3 separate regions of the Homo sapiens genome follow, and all the other regions are linked to region 2. Evidence: fine-mapped expression QTL. A gene starts in region 2. Each other region holds a variant in brackets. All regions are shown on one strand. Distances are from middle to middle. Region 1 overlaps VPS26A (VPS26 retromer complex component A). Region 2 holds the start of VPS26A (VPS26 retromer complex component A). Region 3 has its middle 17 kb from the start of SRGN.

Evidence for each region. PIP is the estimated chance that this variant, and not a neighbour inherited with it, causes the effect.
Region 1: its variant is the best candidate, but not a certain one, in a credible set for the expression of VPS26A in whole blood (TOPMed, PIP 0.56).
Region 3: its variant is the best candidate, but not a certain one, in a credible set for the expression of VPS26A in monocytes after interferon gamma (Fairfax 2014, PIP 0.75).

The regions. Positions count from the first base shown.
Region 1 is chr10:69,171,341-69,173,885 of GRCh38, forward strand. It overlaps VPS26A (VPS26 retromer complex component A), which reads left to right. Exons shown (of 9, transcript NM_004896.5): 9 at 1-2,545. Among named protein-coding and RNA genes, the nearest start is that of SUPV3L1, 7.6 kb to the right of the region's middle. The variant A/C (reference allele first, on the strand shown) is at 1,095.
Region 2 is chr10:69,123,188-69,125,687 of GRCh38, forward strand. VPS26A (VPS26 retromer complex component A) reads left to right here and starts at 991. Exons shown (of 9, transcript NM_004896.5): 1 at 991-1,093. The coding sequence starts at 1,091. RefSeq lists enhancers at 225-584, 1,449-1,955 and a silencer at 845-1,244.
Region 3 is chr10:69,069,636-69,072,135 of GRCh38, forward strand. No RefSeq gene overlaps it. Among named protein-coding and RNA genes, the nearest start is that of SRGN, 17 kb to the right of the region's middle. The variant T/C (reference allele first, on the strand shown) is at 1,135.

The DNA.
Region 1 (2,545 bases), 48 kb after region 2:
TGGTTGCAGCTGGAGGGGGCGGAAAAAGGCCAAAACTCCATATATGTTAGTCTTCCTTTATCTTACAGCGCAGCATTTATTTTATGATATAATGAAATGTTCGTTCATGTATATACATTTTTAAAAGTGCTTTCTTTGAAACACTGGAACTTTGTTAAGCTGCCTTTTTTTTTTTAACTTCCTACTTTGATGATAAGCACTCAGATATATATCAGCGTAAACATGAAAAATTTTCATGTGAGTAGGCTGGTATTTGTAATTTTGCTTTCTTTCTGCATAATGTTGATTATAAATCCTCTCTTTTCAGGCTAATGATTACCTCTTATTCTCTACATGCAAAAAATTAAATATTTTGTGTTCAAATAAAATTAGAAAACCTGAGTGGCCTCTTGTGTCCTGCAGAGATTTAAAACATGGCATCTCAATATTTTTGAGAACTACATTTGTTTTTAACATATGTGTTTGAGAAAAGCATATGGAGTGTTTCACCGCAGGCACTTCTGAGTACCATTCCATGGCTTCCAGAATTTTATCCTCTTTGAGGTCTTCTGTGCTATGAATATTAGATTTCTTTCCCCAAGGGATTATGTGGCAGGTCATTATGGCCTTCTTTTTTTTGGCCATATTAAGTAACAGTTTTGCTATATTCCAGTAGTACCGTTGTGTGTTTTCTGCAATGTGGAGTTGACTTAGCTTGGCATTTTAGATTTGTTAAAACTATTTTTTCCATAAATACTTTGAAACATATTTATATATTTCAATTTAAGGAATCTTTTTGCCATGTGTATGCAAATATTATTTTCTTCATACATTCATTTTCTTTTCAGGGGAAAATTTTGGGATGGGGGACTCAGGAGGACCTGTGAAGCATGTAGTTATCTAGATCTGGGTAATTTCATGTTTATTAAACTCGAACTTTGGCTAGTTAAACTCATATTGAAACTTCATCTAGTCTCTTAATTTTTTAACACTAAATTCAAGTCATTTGTTTTAAGTCTCTAAAAAAGAAGATTGCAGTCATCCATTCATATGCATGGGGTCTGATCGCAAATACACTAAATGTGGAGTGTAGGAACCAAAATGAAACCTGCTGT[A/C]TGGAAACTACTTTCACTTATGGTTCATTGGTTTTTGTACCAATATTTTTTATGCACTTCAGTGCAAGTCTTGTCAGTTAACCTTACTTTATGAGTAAGCTAAATAACCCAAATTACATTTCTTTAAACCTGTTTTACTACTATGGCACTTTGATAAAATGGTCAGGAACCAACTTTACTGGCAAAAGGGTCCATGTACCACCATGTGCTGGAGCATCTGTTCTACATGTGGATATCTATGAATGGTAATGTTTTCCTTCATGTAAGTGCCTATTCAGAGTTTCAGAATTTTAAAATGCCAAATATTTTCATGGTCATTTGCATGTAGTAAGCCAGAAAATATTCAAAGAGATTTTGAAAACCAATTGTATTTAACCAGCCTCAAATTGTGCAACCATGATGTATAATAAAGAATTTGAAACAGAAACTGAGCTTGCTGTTTGCATGATTAAAATAGCTCTGTTCTCAAATCTCTTCTCATTGTTAGATTTATTGTCGAGGATAGGATTGTTCAATAGTTTAGGAAGCTGTAACTGTGATAATGAATTTTTATAAATATTACTGGTTTCAATTTTAAATAGATATATAATGCTTTTAATAGGCTGGCTTAAAACTGTCATATACAGGATGCCTATCCGTTTTGCTCAAGACTTTTTGTAGCATAACCAATTTGAAAAAAATTCAAATTTAATATTTGGTGATTTCAGTCAAAAGTCAGCCAGCTAATTAGAAGTCATAAACTGAAAAAGAAATTTGTGTCTTTAATGAAGAGTTACAATGTCTAATCCATTGGTTCTCAACCCTGGCTGCATATCAGAATCACCTTAGAAGCTTTTAAAATAACCAGGCCCGGGTCCTACTCTGACCAATAAAATAAGAATCTCAGAGACTGGGCCATAAGCATTAAAAACAAAACAACCTCAAAAAAATACCTGTCATCTCAGCCACTTCAGGAGTCTGAGGCGGAAGGATCACCTGGAATTCGAGACCAGCCTGGCCAACAAAAATGAGACCCTATCTCTACAAAAAAATTAACAATGAGCTGGGCATGGTGGCATGCACCTGTATTTCCAGCTATTTAGGAAGCTGAGACAGGAAGATCCCTTTGAGAGGTGAAGCCAGCTGGACTTCTGAGTTGCGTGGGGACTTGGAGAACTTTTCTGTCTTACAAGGGGATTGTAGAATGCACCAATCAACACTCTAGCTAGGATTGTAAAACGCACTCTGGCTAGCTGGAGGTTTGTAAAATGTACCAATCAGTGCTTGTGAAAACGCACCAATCAGGCTGGGCACAGTGGCTCACGCCTGTAATCCCAGCACTTTGGGAGGCTGAGGCGGGCAGATCACCTGAGTTCCAGGAGTTCGAGACCAGCCTGACCAACGTGGAGAAACTCCATCTCTACCAAAAATGCATTAGTCGGGCGTGGTGGCACATGCCTGTAATCCCAGCT
Region 2 (2,500 bases):
CGGTTAGAGATGATACTCTGATTTCAATCCTCTTAAATTTGAGGCTCACACTGAGGATTAAGTATAAAAAAATTTTTTTTGATACCTGTTTCATGGACTCGCCTCACAAACTTCTGTTTTAAGGTGGGGTAATTATAGTGCGTTCAGGGATGGATTTTTCTTCTGCTTTGGTTATGCATAGAGTGCACTGTGGCCCTTCAACACTATACTCTGAAATCCCACACAGTATTTTCCTCATCTGGAGGTCCTATAGGCTTACACTAGGGAGGAGGATCCAGTTCAGGCCAGCGTAGTCTTCAGCTGCGCCGTGGGACTTTCGGGGGAGCGCCTTTGCCCTCTCAGAACGGCTGGGCGGAACGGTGGGTTTGTGAGCCCTCCAGGCTCAGGGTGGGTCGCTCAGGGGCCATCTGGGGACTTTGGGAAGCAATGAAAGTTGTACCCTAGGATTTTTTTCTACTGGTCTTCTCTTCAGAGGCGAGAAAGCCAAGTTAAGAAAACCCAGACTCAGAAGGAGGTGGAGCGGGACTGCGTTCAGGCAAGGTGGCAGAACGCCTCGCCGTGGACGAAGAGAGCACATCTCTTCTTGCGAGGCCTAAGGAAGTAGGGCTCCCACTCGCCTCGGCAACCCAAGGACCCAGCCAAGGAGAGAGCCTCCAGATGAATCCTTCCTCTCCTCCTTCCTTCCCAGCCGCTCAAACTTTCACAAAGAGGAACTGGGTGCGGTAAAGAGGCCGGACACGGAACCGCTCGTCCGGTGACCGAAGAGACGGCGAGGAGGAGCCCGCGAACCCGCCTCTGTTCAGGCCCCGCCCACTCGACGTAATTTGCCCGCCCCTCTCCACCCTCCGAAGGGTGGAGCCTGAGGCCCCGCCTCCAAGCGGCCTCTCCCCGGAGTGCCTGGCGGCCAGCAGGGCGGGGCAGGAGGCTGGGAGAGGGACGGGTGCGGGGGTGGGGGAGAGGAAGGGAGCGGTCACGTGTGAGGGGCGGCCCGAGGTCACGTGACGGAGCGCCGGAGCGGAGGGAGCCGGGGCTGGGAGTTCTCCTGAGGGAAGAGGAGTGGAGTAGGGGGGACGCGGCGGCGGCGTTGACAATGGTGAGTGCGCGGCGGCCAGCGCGCTCGCCTCCCGCCCTCGTCCCGGAGCGCGCGGCGGGCCGGCCAACCGCGGGCCGGGCGTCGCCGGAGGAGGGGACGGGGGAGCAGGGCGGGGAGCGGGGTTAGGCCTGTCGGGCCACCCCTGGGTCTGGGAAAAGCTGGCGGCGCCACCTCTTCCCGGTCTCGGCGAGGCCCGAGCACCTACGGGCGGCGGCGTGCTCTCCTGGCCATGTCGGAGCCTCTGCCCGCGTTCTTCGACTGCTTGTTGGGGCTCTGGCTGGGGACTCGGACCCCGCCTCTGCGGGGGCTGGTCGCCGCCTCCCCTTCCTAGGTAGCCAGTCCCTGTTCTCCTCCCGGGCAGCCTCTCTTCCATCCAGGTGGGGCGACCCGGGAGCCCCCCACCTCCGGACTCTTCGGGGGACTTGGGCACTCAGTGTGTCACGAACTTGATAAACTCTGATATTTTAAAACCTGACTATGGTGACATTCTTTGATTTCATGACCCCAGTTCAGGCTTTCTGTTGACACTTGTAAAATGGGAGAGAAAAATAAAAGGACGTTGGAATGGGGGATATCTTTAACTCCAGAGACACCCGTTTGGTGCCCGCCGTTTTAAGCATTGGCTCTCATTTCCGTCCGCAAGCTATTTCGCTGAACTTAACGCTCTGGGTTGTTGAAACGGCCTATGAGGCAGAGGAGGGAGGGGAATCAGTGCTCTCACCACAGTCCGCGGAAGCACTAGCCTGGGCATTGTGGTATTTAGCTGGGTGTCGGCAGTCTCTAGGTTAGATCTCATTTTACCCATTTTCTGGTAGTAGTCGTCAGTTCTCTTCATTTAGCGCCTACTGTATGCTCTCCTAATACTACCTGCTCTTCCCAAAGCTCACTGATTCAATAGACTGCTTGAGACTTTTGGCTTAAAAGGCCGAGCCAGGTATATTTTTAAAAAGCTACTTTGAATAAATAACTTTTAATTTCAGTAATGATGTTGCTTTCAAAACAAAACAAAACAAAATCCAGACATTCATGTTCATTCTTAGAGCTTTTTTTCTTTCATTCAACAAATAATTGCTCAGGTGTGCCTAGGGGACCCCAGTAAAATGGAAACAGCGCCTACCTGCTCTCGTAGCTTACAATGTAGGGAGAGATAAACATTTATTTGTGTAAATTATTTGTTTAACGTGGAAATTAGAATTGTGACAGATACTAAGAAGGAAGTATTGGGGGACCTTGCCTAGTCAGTGTTAGGGCAGGCTTCTTTAATTGAATATCATTTGAAAAGAAAACTTAAAAGGTCCTCCTATTTTTTGCTTACATTTGTAATTATTACTTTTAATACGCTTTTTTGAATTATGTTCAAGAGCAGTTTATATTTTCAAGTTACCCAAACAGAAACTAAATTGTAAA
Region 3 (2,500 bases), 54 kb before region 2:
GGGGACATTGGGCCCAGGCAGTGAGTGGCCTTGATTCCTGTCTCCCCTGCCTGGGAAGGGCAGTCAGGGGTGACCCTGACCTCGTCCTGTGTGGCTAACCTGAGGCAATGATTATCCTCTCTAGGGGACTGAGGCAAGCGGCCAGGTGTCTTGAGGGCCCGCTTATCTCAGGACTTGGACCTCTATGGGGTCTTGTCTCACACACCCACTGTGGGGCTTTCCCTATCTCTGCTTTACATGCACATTGCAGAATAAGAGATGCCGTTGAAGGACTCTATCCAAGAAGCCCTTCCCAATGAGATTTGAGGCCAGGATTAAGAGGCCTTAAATGGACATTTCTGTGAGGAAGAAATTGTGCGTGCTTAGATGTCTGTGTCTTTGGAGGGTTTGGAGGGTCAAGACACCATCAAATTTGTGTTTCACAAGCTTGAACTTGAACAAATTTGTGTTTCACAACAGGTTTGATGGGATCTGGACTCTCTCTGCTATGGGGTCAGCCCTCCTGGAGTCCACCCCAGCTTGAGCACTGGAAGCCTGCCCTGGATTGGACAGGAACCCTGCATTTCTCCCACTGGCACTCACCCTCCGCCGATCAAATTATATCCTCGGCTTCCTCAGCAGTACAATCTTCAGAGGACTGTGGAGAGGATTAAACTGTTATTACTGTACATGAGAAGTGCTTACATCAGTGCCTGCTCACAATTTACATGTGATTATTATCATTATAATCCCACCTGGCCTGGTCAACATAAAGAAACCTGGGGCCTGTTCTGACTCCCTACCCCACTTTATTTTTAAAATAGAGACAGGGTCTCCCTCCCTATGTTACCCAGGCTGGTCTTGAACTCCTGACCTCAAGCGATCCTCTGTTCTCGGCCTCCCAAAGTTCTGGGATAACAGGCGTGAGCCACTGTGCTCAGCCTGCTCCTTCCCTTTATCTGCCAGGCTTGAACCCTTCTCCCTGGTGGGACCCAGAAGGCCAGCCTGGCAGAGCTGTGTGAGGACCAGGTAAGCTCTCACACCCACCCTGCCTGGCATGTAGTAAGCCCTTCCTCGCCTCTTTAAAGAAGACCAAGGCAAATGGGTTTATGATTTCTCAGGAAGGTTTTGATTCTGTTGTTTTTCCTTCCCAGC[T/C]TCCCAATTGTCTACTGTACCTGCAAACTCCCTATCCTTCAGGTCCAGATCTAGTGTGTCTCCTGCAGCTTCTGTCTAAACTAAGGATTGCCCTTTTGGTCCCTATTCCAGCCCTTCCCCTCTGGGAAATGACGTATGCCTTCCAGAACTTCTAACTTTACCACACTCTGATGGTGAGCTGGGCACTGACTGTGTGGCTGGCATTGTTCTTAATTACCACGTTCCAGGTCTTCACACAGATGGGCTTATTTGATCCTCACTGTGTTCCTATGAGGATGGTGTAATTTTGATCTCTATTTCTTTAAAAAATAGAGATGGGGTCTAGCTATGTTGCCCAGGCTGGTCTCCAACTCCTGAGCTCAAGCAATTCTCCCCACCTCAGCCTCCCAAAGTGTTGAGATTACAGGCATGAGCCATCGTGCCTGGCCTATCATCCCCATTTAAAAGACAGAAAATCTGAGGCACAAGGAGGTTAAACAACTTGCCTGAGATCCCAGTTAGAAAGCGGTAAGTTTGAACCCAAGTAGTGTGACTCTAAGCCCCAGCTCCCAACCACACCATTTTGTTGCCATCGTAACTCTAATGTTTAGAATCTATTGGATACTCAAAGGTCTTGGCGTGTCCTAAATTTAAATAAATAAGTAAACAAATAAATAAATAAATAAGAATCCATAGGAATTGGGAAAAGGAGCATGGTCTTTGTTCTATGAATGTTGTTTGTTTTTTTTTTTTTTTTTCAGTCGAAAGATATTTTACTGCAAAATTGGAGATTTCAAATTCCCCCTGGTTATATTCTGCTGGTGTTTAACCTCCTTCTAAATAAGGCATTCTTTCTGAATCTCACTGAATTCTCTTGTACTAAAAAATAGAACTATTTTTTCTTGCTCCATCACCTGTGGAGATGGAAAAGTACTGATCAGCACGTTCTCTCGCATGCTTGAAAATACCTTCCCGGTATCTCACATCTCTCTGAGCCCATTCTTCTCCAAAGCCAGAGGACCTGGCTCCTTTCCACTAGGCGGGTTTCCTGTTCGTAGCCCTGACAAAAGTGTCCAGAGTTTTCCAGCCTCTCTCCTTCCACTGGGTATGCATTGGGCCATGAGGGTGGCGCTGAGGGTGCACACAGGGTCCAAAGCAAGCCATGTGGCTTGGGGTCCTCCATCTCTGCTCAGAATTTTATTTTAGCTTACTTTGTTATTTTTTATACTCCAGAACATTTAAAAAAGAAATGAAGGTGTAAAGAAGTGGGGTGGGGGGGGGGGCAGGTGGAAAACGTTAGCCTTAATCTCTCCTCCCCTGACATTTTAATACAGGTTGGAGTTGACTTTGAACCTGAGGGCCTAAGTGCCCGGCACTGCGAGGGTAT